4 separate regions of the Homo sapiens genome follow, and regions 1, 2 and 4 are each linked to region 3. Evidence: fine-mapped QTL for protein levels in blood plasma. A gene starts in region 3. Each other region holds a variant in brackets. All regions are shown on one strand. Distances are from middle to middle.

Region 1 (2,744 bases), 37 kb before region 3:
GTGTAATACACTTAGAGGATAGACTCAGCTCATTTCCCAGCTATGCCTTTCAGCAGCTTTCTTACCAGAGTAGGAATATAATGTTAGTCATTATTTAGAGGCCTGGCCATCTTGAGAAGGTTTACTGTTTAGTCTGCAGTACAATTATAACTGTTTTTGTATATTGGGTTATTTTTTTCAGAAGTAGGCCAGTAGCTCTAACAGGAGCCTCTTTAGCCTGAATTCGTCCAAGTAGTGCAGTGTTGCACTAGTTGTCCCTCGGGACATGCTCCCCAATACGTAACTCACTTCCAGGTTGCAACTGGACACTTACTGGTAGTCAGAAATAGCTATTGCATGGAGCTTAAAATGAACTTGATCTTCGTGAAAGATGAGTCTGCAGCTAAGAGACTTTACTGTATATCATAGTGTTTTTTTTTGTTTTGTTTTGTTTTTGTTTTTGTGACGGAGTCTCACTCTTTCACCCAGGCTGGAGTGCAATGGCGAGATCTTGACTCACTGCAACCTCCGCCCCCTAGGTTCAAGCAATTCTTCTGTCTCACCCTCCTGAGTAGCTGGGATTACAGGCGCCTGCCACCGTACCCGGCTAGTTTTTGTATTTTTAGTAGACACAGGGTTTCACCACCTTGGCCAGGCTGGTCTTGAACTCCTGACCTCGTGATCCACCCTCCTCGGCCTCCCAAAGTGCTGGGATTACAGGCGTGAGCCACGGCGCCCAGCCTGTATCATAGTTCTTATGCACAAAGACCCTTTAATATTGTTTGTAAATTCTCCCCTATGCACACGCTGACCTGTTCCTTAATCTTCTTATCTGTCTAGGTTTGGAGCAGGTATGTTAAGAAGTTAGGGGATTTTGCTAAGCCGGAGAATATTGACTTGGCCGTGCAGTGCCTGAATGAACTTATAACCAATGCACTGCACCACATCCCAGATGTCATCACCTACCTTTCGAGACTCAGAAACCAGAGTGTGTTTAACTTCTGTGCTATTCCACAGGTAGGGAAGGGGGCTCCTCTGGGTGGATACGGGGCTAAAGGGAGTGGGGTAGGAGTAAGGGTGGATTTTGCTGTGCTATATTCAAGGATATGATTCCTTAAAAAGACGATGACTCCAGTTTATTACGCTGGGAGTTTCATAGCACCCGCCTTTGCTTCCAGCCACCAAACTCAGCTCAGCCTTGAGGTTAAGCCTGCTCCTTTTCAGAACCTTCTTTCTGGATTTACTATTTTCTACAGCTATCCTAAACTAGTTAGGTTCTTTTCCTCACAGTTAAGTCAAGGTCTTTGGCTTAGATTTATGGGGAGTGCTGGGTAAAACCTGGGTGAAGCTGTTATCATTAAAAAGTCTTCATTAAGCACCTAATTACTGCTGTCCTTTTCCTAGACCCGGCATAAAAAGAACCTGGTCCGGTAGACCTAGCCTCTCAGTATGCTAGGAACTTACACTTTTTAGTTGCCTTTACCAAGTATTGCAGATACTACTGCAAATAAGTGAAGAAAGTAACAGCATTTAACTGATTTGGGAACTTGGTTTGATCTTGTTCTAATGACC[A/C]ACTTCGAATGGTGGTTGAAAGTAAAATCTGTATCGCCGTCTTATGTTTCCATTTACCTAGAAATACTTTACCTTTGAGCACAGGAAATTAATCCCCTTCTGGTTGTTCTCCCCCTGGCATTGGTTTTAAATATATAATGATTATGTTTGTTGTAGGAAAAATAGAAAAACAACTACAATAGAAAATTCTTCCCATATATTATTTTGAAATACATATTTCCGATCCGATAATCCATTGCTCTAGCATGGAAAATGTTGGATTTACTTGTGTTTGCTTTTTCCAAATAAAATGGAACTTTTGTGGCTACATTATAGAATTGTTTTAGACTGCTTAATTCTGTGTGTTGTTGAGAAAGGGAGGAGTGGGGAAGGTAAAAATCTTGACATACTTTCTTCGTGGGTATTTTTTCTTGAGCGATTCCATCTTAGTTGATTAGCAGTTAGCAATTGCCCATTCAACAGAAGGTTTTCTTACCTTTTTGTGATAATGATAGCTAACGACATCATTTCTTCTTTTTTCCCTCTCTTCTTGTTGTCTCTAGGTGATGGCCATTGCCACTTTGGCTGCCTGTTATAATAACCAGCAGGTGTTCAAAGGGGCAGTGAAGATTCGGAAAGGGCAAGCAGTGACCCTGATGATGGATGCCACCAATATGCCAGCTGTCAAAGCCATCATATATCAGTATATGGAAGAGGTGGGTTTTTATTTAACTACTTGGATAATTTGTAGCTACTTTTATGATTTAGTAATGTCACTGTTTAACCAGGTTTGGATATTAGATGATCCTAACAATTCACTATCCTGTGGCCTAAAGAGACAGGAATTGATATCCTTTATAAGGAAAAAAGTCTATTCACAGGAGCCGAGCAGATTGCTCACTGCTGTGTAGTACCCTGGTGAGAGGAGATAAATGGAGCAAGGCTGTAGGTTGGAGCCCCTCAGTAGAATCATAGATTTTGAGCTGCAAGATGATGCAGGAGGCCAACCAAGCTTCTTGTTGCTGGTGAGGAATGTGAGGTTGAAGCTTGTCTGTGCTGATGCAGTGCGTGATTGAGTGGATCTCTGGCTCCCGTCCATGTGTCCTGACACCCAGTCTGGTACTTTCATTATGCCACAGGCCTCAATTGAAAAATCACAGTAGGGAATTTAGGCCAAGGAAAGCCATCAAGTTGCAATTATTTCCTAAATTTTC
Region 2 (2,744 bases), 17 kb before region 3:
CACTGCAACCTACGCCTCCTGGGTTCAAGCAATTCTCCTGCCTCAGCCTCTATAGTAGCTGGGATTATAGGTGCCTGCCACCAGGCCCAGCTAAGTTTTGTCTTTTTAGTAGAGACAGGGTTTCACCATGTTGGCCAGGTTGGTCTCAAACTCCTGACCTCAGGTGATCCGCCTGCCTCAGCCTCCCAAAGTGTTGAGATTACAGGCGTGAGCTACCGTACCTGGCTGTGTTTTTTTCTTAACAAAAAACACAGCTCACCCAGAAAATAAATACTGTTGTGATCCACTTGTATGAGGTCCCTAGGAGTCAAATTCATAGAGACAGAAAGTAGAGTGGGGCTTACCAGGGGCTACAATATTGGTGTTAATGGGGACAGAGTTTCTGTCTTGCGAGCTGAAAAAGAGTTCGGGGGACAGATGGTGGTGGTGGCTGAGCAACACTGTGAATGTACTTAATGCTACAGAACTGTACACTTGAAAATAGTTGCTGGGCACGGTGGCTCACGCCTGTAATCCCAGCATTTTGCGAGGCCGAGGAAGGCAGATCAACAGGTGAGGCGTTTGAGACCAGGCTGTCCAACATGGCAAAACCCCATCTCTACTAAAAATACAAAAATTAGCTGGGCGTGGTGGCACATGCCTGTAGTCTTAGCTACTGGGGAGACTGAGGCAGGAGAATTGCTTGAACCCAGGAGGCAGAGGTTGCAGTGAGCCAATATCCCACCACTGCACTCCAGCCTGGGTGACAGAGCAAGACTCCATCTCCAAAAAAAAAAAAAAAAAAAAAAGAAAGAAAAAGAAAACAAAAGAAGATTGCTAAGATTATTACATTTCTGTTACGTGTATTTTACCACAATTAAATGACAAAATTAAGACAGCTCACTGACACTAAAGGGATGCTTTCTTGAAGCAGAGTAGCAGTGAGAGCTCCTGGTATTTGCGGACGGGCCAGCATGTCAGGGAAAGGGAGCTGCTTCGCCACCTGTACACGTGGACTTGCAATCTGCTGGATGCTCTGCCCGCCACTCCACCTAATCCTCGCCATCATTCATGGCCAGAGGGATTGTGATTTTTGTACTGATGGAAACTGGGACTCAGAAAGTTTCTATAACTTGCCTTGTCAGAGTTGTCCCCACCCCGAATCCCCCAAGACTCTCCAGTGTTGCTCCCACTTTCTCTCCAGCGCTTCCCCGCCAGCCAGCAGGGCCTTACCCAGCAGGAGCCACAGGAGCCCTGGTCTCTGATCTCTTTGATGGTG[G/A]GACACTGTGGCCATTGTTCCCGTGCATCGAAGCTTGCAGGCAGCTTCAGGTCCTCGGTAAACATAACTCTGGATAAAGGAAGGTCTTCATTACAAGCTCTGATCCCACAACTCCCTCCCCAATCCCTGCAAAGGCCACTTTGGCTGGGCCACACTCCCCTAACAAGGAAATGAGCACAAGACATGCCGAAGAAGGCTGCAGACAGGTGTCCTTGGTAATTTCATAAAACAAAAGGAAATTCTGTTGCTCAATGCACCTTTTGATTTTTTTTTTGGGTGGGACGGGAGGGTGGGAGTGGACAGAATTTCACTGTGTCATCCAGGCTGGAGTGCAGTGGCGAGATCTCTGCCCACTGCAACCTCTGCCTCCTGAGTTCAATCGATTCTCGTGCCTCAGCCTCCTGAGTAGCTGGGATTACAGGCATGCACCACCACACCCGGCTAATTTTTGTATTTTTAGTAAAGACAGGGTTTCACCATGTTGGCCAGGCTGGTCTTAAACTCCTGGCTTCAAATGATCTGCCTGCCTTGGCCTCCCAAAGTGCTGGGATTACAGGCATGATCCACCACACCTGGCCTGACTTGCGATATTGTACGCTTCTTTCTAGGCTTATGTAATGGATTTTTTAAGATGAATTTATCCACAAATTATAAACTCATTTTTAAATAAGTTTATTCAGTCCAGATAGTGTTTCTTGCCCTGCTCTCCTGCCTCAACCTCTGCCCAGGATCCTCTCATCATTTCTCATATCATCCCCATTGTGCAGAAGGCAGTGTCGTGCAACTTAACTACCCCATCCTCACGTGGGAAGTGGCATCATCTCAGCTCACCGCAACCTCTGCCTCCCGGGTTCATGCGATTCTCTAGCCTCAGCCTCCCGAGTAGCTGGGATTACAGGCGCCCGCCACCACGCCTGGCAAAGTTTTTTATTTTTAGTAGAGACGGGGTTTCATCATGTTGGTCAGACTGGTCTCGAACTCCTGACCTCAGGTGATCCGCTTGCCTTGGCATCCCAAAGTGCTGGGATTACAGGCGTGAGCCACCATACTTGGCCTCATCTGGCTTTTCTTAGATTTCCCTTAAATTACTCAAGATTGAGTCTGCCCACATAGTGGGGACCCAGACCTTGTCTGTCACATCTGCGGCTGAGACACCTTGGAGAAGCACAATAGAAAACACTGGGGGTGGCTCATGCCGGTAATCCCAGCACTCTGGGATGCCGAGTTGGGCAGATGACTTGCTGAGGCCAAGAGTTCGAGACGAGCCTGGCCAGTATGGCGAAACCCAGTCTCTACTAAAAATACAAATATTAGCCGTGCACGGTGGTGCAAGCCTGTGGCCCCAGCTACTCAGGAGGCTGTGGCATGAGAATCGCTTGAACCCGGGAGACAGAGTTTGCAGTGAGCCAAGATCGTGCCACTGCACTCCAGCCTGGGTGACAGAGTGAGACTCTCTCAAAAACCAAAAAAAAGCACCAGCATCTTC
Region 3 (2,500 bases):
TTCGCCTTACGTTCCTGAACGTTTGGATTCAAAGAGAGTGCATCTCAGCTATCCTCTCCTCCGGCAGCAGGCAGTGGGAATGTTTTTCCAGGCTACAAAAAGGTGCCAGGTCTGCATTTGAACCCCACAGCGTCACTTCTCCAGTGGGTTTGGGGGGTCTCTCGTCCGTTAGGAGGAGGAGTGTGGGGCCTGCGCTAGGGTCCTTTTCTTTGCCAGCCTGCTGGCTTTCTCAGCGCCTGGGAAGGGGGTGACAGAGGCCCACCAGGAAGCCAAGTGCAATTCACTTCCACCTGGGTCGCCCACCCCAGCCTGCCTGCAACGCCCCACACCCAGCACCCACTGCTCCCCAGAGGCCAACTCCCCCCGGCCTCCAGGGCTACTAACCGAGGGGGAGGTGGCGCCCCAGGGACTCTGCCCGGCCTCCCTTTACTGGAGTCCAGGAGCAGGGTGCGCCCCCGGCCTTCTCCCCACCGGCATCCAATCGCCCATTCGCCTCTTGGTTTCGCTGTCTGGTTTCTCTTCCTGTTTATGGATTTAACACCGTGCGGCTTCCTCCCCAGCCCACCCAGTGCCAGATTCCTGTTCTTCAACAGGACCTGTCTTCTGGGGTCCCAGGAATTGCGTGGGATCTTGCGCAGAAAGTTGGCCAGGCAAATCCTTCGCAATGAGGGGGAAATAAACCGAAAATAGATGCCGGCAGATGCGATTATGTCGGCAGTTTGGCCCGGAGACACCGAGGCCCAGGCGCTGGGAGCGCGGTCCCAGGCAGCAGTCTCCGGACCCGGCCGAGCTCTTCCTCGCAGGCGCCTCCCTCGGCGGTCCTGGCCGCGTCCCCGCTCCGAGGGCCGGGGTCCGGCGCACAGCCCGGGGAGGGGAGCGGAGGGCAGAGGGCTGGCGGGCGGAGCTGTTTTCTGCTTTTCTCGCCGACGCTTCGGAGCGCGCGGACTCCCACCCCAGCCCGCCCGTCAGGGACAGTCCCGAGGGTCCCGGCTCCCCGCCGGCCCCCAGGGACGCCGCGGGGCCGCGCCTGGGCCCGACTGAGGGCGCAGAGGAACCCGTCTCGGCGGCCGGGTAGCACCGTCCCCGCCAAGGTCACTTACGCTGCGGTGGCCCCGGGTCCCCAGCACTCACCCAGCGCTGCAGCCGAGAGCCTGCAGCCCAGCCTGCGCGCAGCGGAGCGGTTGGCGTTGCCGGAGCGGTTGCCGGAGCCCTGCAGCCGCCGTAGCCTGGGCCAGCCCCGGCCCTAAGTACCCTCCCGGCCCCGCCCCACGTGACCACCGCGCAGCCCCGCCCGGGCCCTCCCGCCGCCCGCGCACGGTGCTTCCCAGCCCCCACCCCCTCCCGCCACCTTCCGCCGCCCGCGCTCCCCGCTTCCCGGCCCCGCACACCCCCCGCCCCCTTCCGCTCGGGGTCCGGGGCCACCGCCGGGGGCGGGCGGGGGCCTGAGCGCGCGGGCTGGGGAAGAAGGGCTTGGAGCCCTGCGGGCCCTGGGTGGCGAAACGCTGCGAATTGGGGCCAGGGGATGGGGAAAAAGCCCCTAAAGGTGGTCCCAAGGCCCCCACCCCGCCTAGAAAAGTCCCCCCGCCTCGCGGGACCGCCTCCGCCAGAACCCGCGCCTGGGATCCCTGCCTGCCGAGTTGGCGGGGGTGGGGTGGTGGAGAGGGCGCCGTCGCTTATTTCATTCATTCAGAAGCCGCTGCAGAGGCTGGGGGTGGCGAGGCTGTGGACCCCACAGAACAGCCTTTAGAAGGGCCACTTTGTTGTTCAGAGAACGTACCCACAAAACACTACAGCTACGTACAAATAGAAAAGAGTGGCTGTCACTGCGAAGGAACCTAGGAGCTGCGTCAGGATTTCTAAGAGGAGAAGGACCTTGGGGGCGGAAATCGGTTTGGCACAGGAGTACCCGGAGACCTGCTCCGAGAGGACGGACAAAGTGCACATTTACTTGGGGTTTATTACCGGGAGGCCCTGGAAGGGAGATGCAGGGGTTGGCTCAAGACTCACCCTCCTCCAGACACTCCCCAAACAGCTTTAATCCTTAAGACAAACCTGCAAAGCAGGCATGACCCCAGTTGTATTCAAGAGGCTCAGAGGGGCTGGGTTCGGTGGCTCACGCCTGTAATCCCAGCATTTTGGGAGGCCGAGGCCGGTGAGTCACCTGAGGTCGGGAGTTCGAGACCATCCTGACCAACATGGAGAAACCCCGTCTCTACTAAAAATACAAAACTAGCCGGGCGTGGTGGCGCGTGTCAGTAATCCCAGCTACTCGGGAGACTGAAGCAGGAGAATCGCTTGAACCCGGGAGGCGGAGGTTGCGGTGACCAGAGATCGCACTATTGCACTCCAGCCTAGGCAACAAGAGTGAAACTCTGTATTAAAAAAAAAAAAAAGGCTCAGAAGAATCGTATTTTATCCAGGCTGTGGCGACAGTAAGAAGGCAGTAGCCGGGTGCAGTGGCTCACGCCTGTAATCCCAGCACTTTGGGAGGCCGAGGCGG
Region 4 (2,744 bases), 24 kb before region 3:
CAGGCGTGAGCCACGACGGCCGGCTGTTATGCTCATCATGGCACTTAAGAGATGCTTAACAAACCTTTCCTACAATGTTCCTCAGATTTTCAGAGCTTATTTGATCTAGCATCTGGTTCCTAAATTCTGAGTCACATCAGAAGCCAAACTTGAATGCTTTTGGAAAGAGCTAGCCTCATACCACTTCAGTTGGGAAGGGGAGTACTGAGGTGTACCTTGGCAGGACAGTGGAATGATTGCTGGTTCTTCTAGTTTGCTCTATACCAAGAACTGCTATAACATGTTTCTAAACCAGGGCTATGCAAAGCACTAGAGTTCCTGACCAGCAATGCAAACCAGTGGCATACAAATTCAAAATACTGTATACAGGCCCTGACTCCAGCCCAAACCAAGGCTGGAGGGCATCCAGGGGGATGTGGTTCCCCACGGGGTAGCATCTTGGTTATGTGAGATCACCAAGACACCAAGCCTGTTTTATGAGCTGAATCCTCAGCTTGTTGCTGGATTTGTGGCTGATAAAAAATACAGGCAGGGCCCAGTGGCTCACGCCTGTAATCCCAACACTTTGGGAGGCTGAGGCAGGCAGACCACCTGAGGCCGGGAGTTTGAAACTAGCCTGGCCAACATGGTGAAATCCTGTATGTACTTAAAAATACAAAAATTACCCAGGCATATTGGTGAGTGCCTGTCATCCCAGCTACTCGGAAGGCTGAAGCAGGAGAATCGCTTGAATCTAGGAGGCTGCAGGTTGCAGTGAGCTGAGAAGGCGCCACTGCACTCCAGCCTGGGAGACGGAATCTCACTCTGTCAGTCACAACAACAACAAAAAAATAGAGCACAGCTATGTTTTGAGTTCTTAAGCAAGGGCAAGCTTACCAGGCACTTACAGAGAAGGTTGACGAGGATGACAGGGAACTAATTGGGGGAGGGATGCCATGGTTGAAAACATGGCTGGGGCAGCGAGAAGTTAAGATGAAGTCCCAAGAGTCGCAAGAACATGCAGTTCCAGGACGTGATTCTCTGCAGGGACAAAGAGAGACAGCAGCTACAAGTCTATAGGCAGTGACAAAGGATCTGAGATCCCATCAGAGTAGACTTCAAGTTGGAGAAAACTTTTATTGGCACAGGCATTCCTTGTTAACTTGACAGGGTGAAGCTGTAATTTTTCAAAAACAGTAAAAGCTGGTTTCTCCTAAACTATTTTCCTTGTGGTAGTAGAGATCAGTGGGTCAGAAACAACTCCTGACCACTTGGTTTCCTTTTGAGCCGCGTCATAAGGAGGCAATCTGTAAAACTAGCACAGGTCTCCCGCTGTTCCACTGGCTCACCCACATGATTAGCAGAGTGCACGAAAAAATAAAACTTCTATTAAAGAATCATGCTGAGCACAA[G/C]ATCAGAGAGGTTGTGACATTGCAAACTCGATAGATGCAGGGGGCCTGGGAGACTGGCGTTCTCCAAAGGGCTCCCAACACCGTCTCTCCTCTGATTTCTGTGACAAATGTGGAAAGCTACTTGCTTGGAGGTACTGGGGGAACTGATGGGGGAACTTTCATCCTGTTAGGAACTCCGCTTTCCATTCCTGCGTCTCTGTCTTGCTCCCTGGAGATGGATGGATCACGGAGGGGGCCACAGTCAGCTGGGGCAGCAGGTACTCCCTACGGCACTAGTCTACAGGGGGAAGGACGCTCTGTGCTGGCAGCGGTGGCTCACATGGCCTGTCTGCACTGTAACCACAGGCTGGGATGTAGCCAGGACTTGGTCTCCTTGGAAGACAGGTCTGATGTTTGGCCAATCCAGTCCTTCAGACCCTGTCTGAAACTTGTATCTTACGTGAACTTAAAGAATAAAATGCATTTCTACCCCGATCTCGCCCCCAGGACTGGCACGACAGGCCCACGGCAGATTAGATCTTTTCCCAGTACTGATCGGTGCGTGGAATTCCAGCCACCACTTCTGATTCGATTCCACAGTGATCCTGTCCTCTGAGTATTTTAAAGAAGCCTGGGAATAAAAAGTAAGGTGCTTTTAAAGTGTGACAAGGGTCAACCAATATAGTCAGACTCATCCTTAAAAGACCTTAAGTCACTCATCCCTGGCCACTCCTGCTGTTGGCCCACTAGCACAGTCCTCAACACCACAAGGCTTCTGGAGCCGTGGGGCACACCTCCACGGGCAAGCCCCCTGCCCGGTCACCCTTCCCATCACAGGATCTGGCGCGATGCTGTGGGAACTGTTGCAGGCGTTGGCTCTGAAGCTGCTCAGAGTCTGCCCTCACAGCAAAAGGGAACTCCTGACTGCCTGGCACTTAGGAGGAGCTCACAGCCTGGCCGTAGGTCCAGGGTTTAAGGCTGTGCGGTGGGTAGAACAGAGAAAGCCGAGATGGCCACGGGGTGTGGCTCACAATTCACTGTTCTTGGCAGGAAGGGGGCAGCCACTCACCATTGTCACCCCAGTCAGTGTTCCAGGAGTTGGCAACCAGCCAGTAGGGTGTGCCATTCTCCACTCCCCAGCCCAGGATGCGGATGGCATGGCCACCCATCATCTCTCCGGTGACGTGTTGGTACACTCCTGAAAAGGGAAGAACTGGCTGAGACCGAGACCGGGCCACTGTCCCACGCCCCACAGCACCCCCCACACTCAGCTGGTCATGCTCCGGGAAGGAGAAACAGCTTCCAGAGGGAACCTGCTGCTCCACCAGGAGGCTCCAGGGGGGGTCCCACAATACTGGGGAATTAAATATATTT

Evidence for each region. PIP is the chance, under the fine-mapping model, that this variant and not a neighbour inherited with it causes the effect. The UK Biobank Pharma Proteomics Project read protein levels with antibody pairs (Olink). The fine-mapping took linkage between variants from a reference panel, not from the people measured, so its PIPs are less certain.
Region 1: its variant is fine-mapped to the plasma level of the CTSB protein (UK Biobank, PIP above 0.99).
Region 2: its variant is fine-mapped to the plasma level of the CTSB protein (UK Biobank, PIP above 0.99). The variant lies in the coding sequence of CTSB. If it changes the protein, the assay may bind it differently, which can mimic a change of level.
Region 4: its variant is fine-mapped to the plasma level of the CTSB protein (UK Biobank, PIP above 0.99).

What each region holds. Positions count from the first base shown.
Region 1 is chr8:11,829,425-11,832,168 of GRCh38, forward strand. It overlaps FDFT1 (farnesyl-diphosphate farnesyltransferase 1), which reads left to right. Exons shown (of 8, transcript NM_004462.5): 6 at 820-996; 7 at 2,094-2,246. Among named protein-coding and RNA genes, the nearest start is that of FDFT1, 28 kb to the left of the region's middle. The variant A/C (reference allele first, on the strand shown) is at 1,552.
Region 2 is chr8:11,849,654-11,852,397 of GRCh38, forward strand. It overlaps CTSB (cathepsin B), which reads right to left. Exons shown (of 10, transcript NM_001908.5): 4 at 1,213-1,327. Among named protein-coding and RNA genes, the nearest start is that of CTSB, 17 kb to the right of the region's middle. RefSeq lists a silencer at 96-278. The variant G/A (reference allele first, on the strand shown) is at 1,259.
Region 3 is chr8:11,866,870-11,869,369 of GRCh38, forward strand. CTSB (cathepsin B) reads right to left here and starts at 1,218. Exons shown (of 10, transcript NM_001908.5): 1 at 1,132-1,218. RefSeq lists an enhancer at 482-691 and silencers at 782-1,111, 1,252-1,371.
Region 4 is chr8:11,843,222-11,845,965 of GRCh38, forward strand. It overlaps CTSB (cathepsin B), which reads right to left. Exons shown (of 10, transcript NM_001908.5): 9 at 2,440-2,568; 10 at 1-2,001. The coding sequence ends at 1,904. Among named protein-coding and RNA genes, the nearest start is that of CTSB, 23 kb to the right of the region's middle. The variant G/C (reference allele first, on the strand shown) is at 1,392.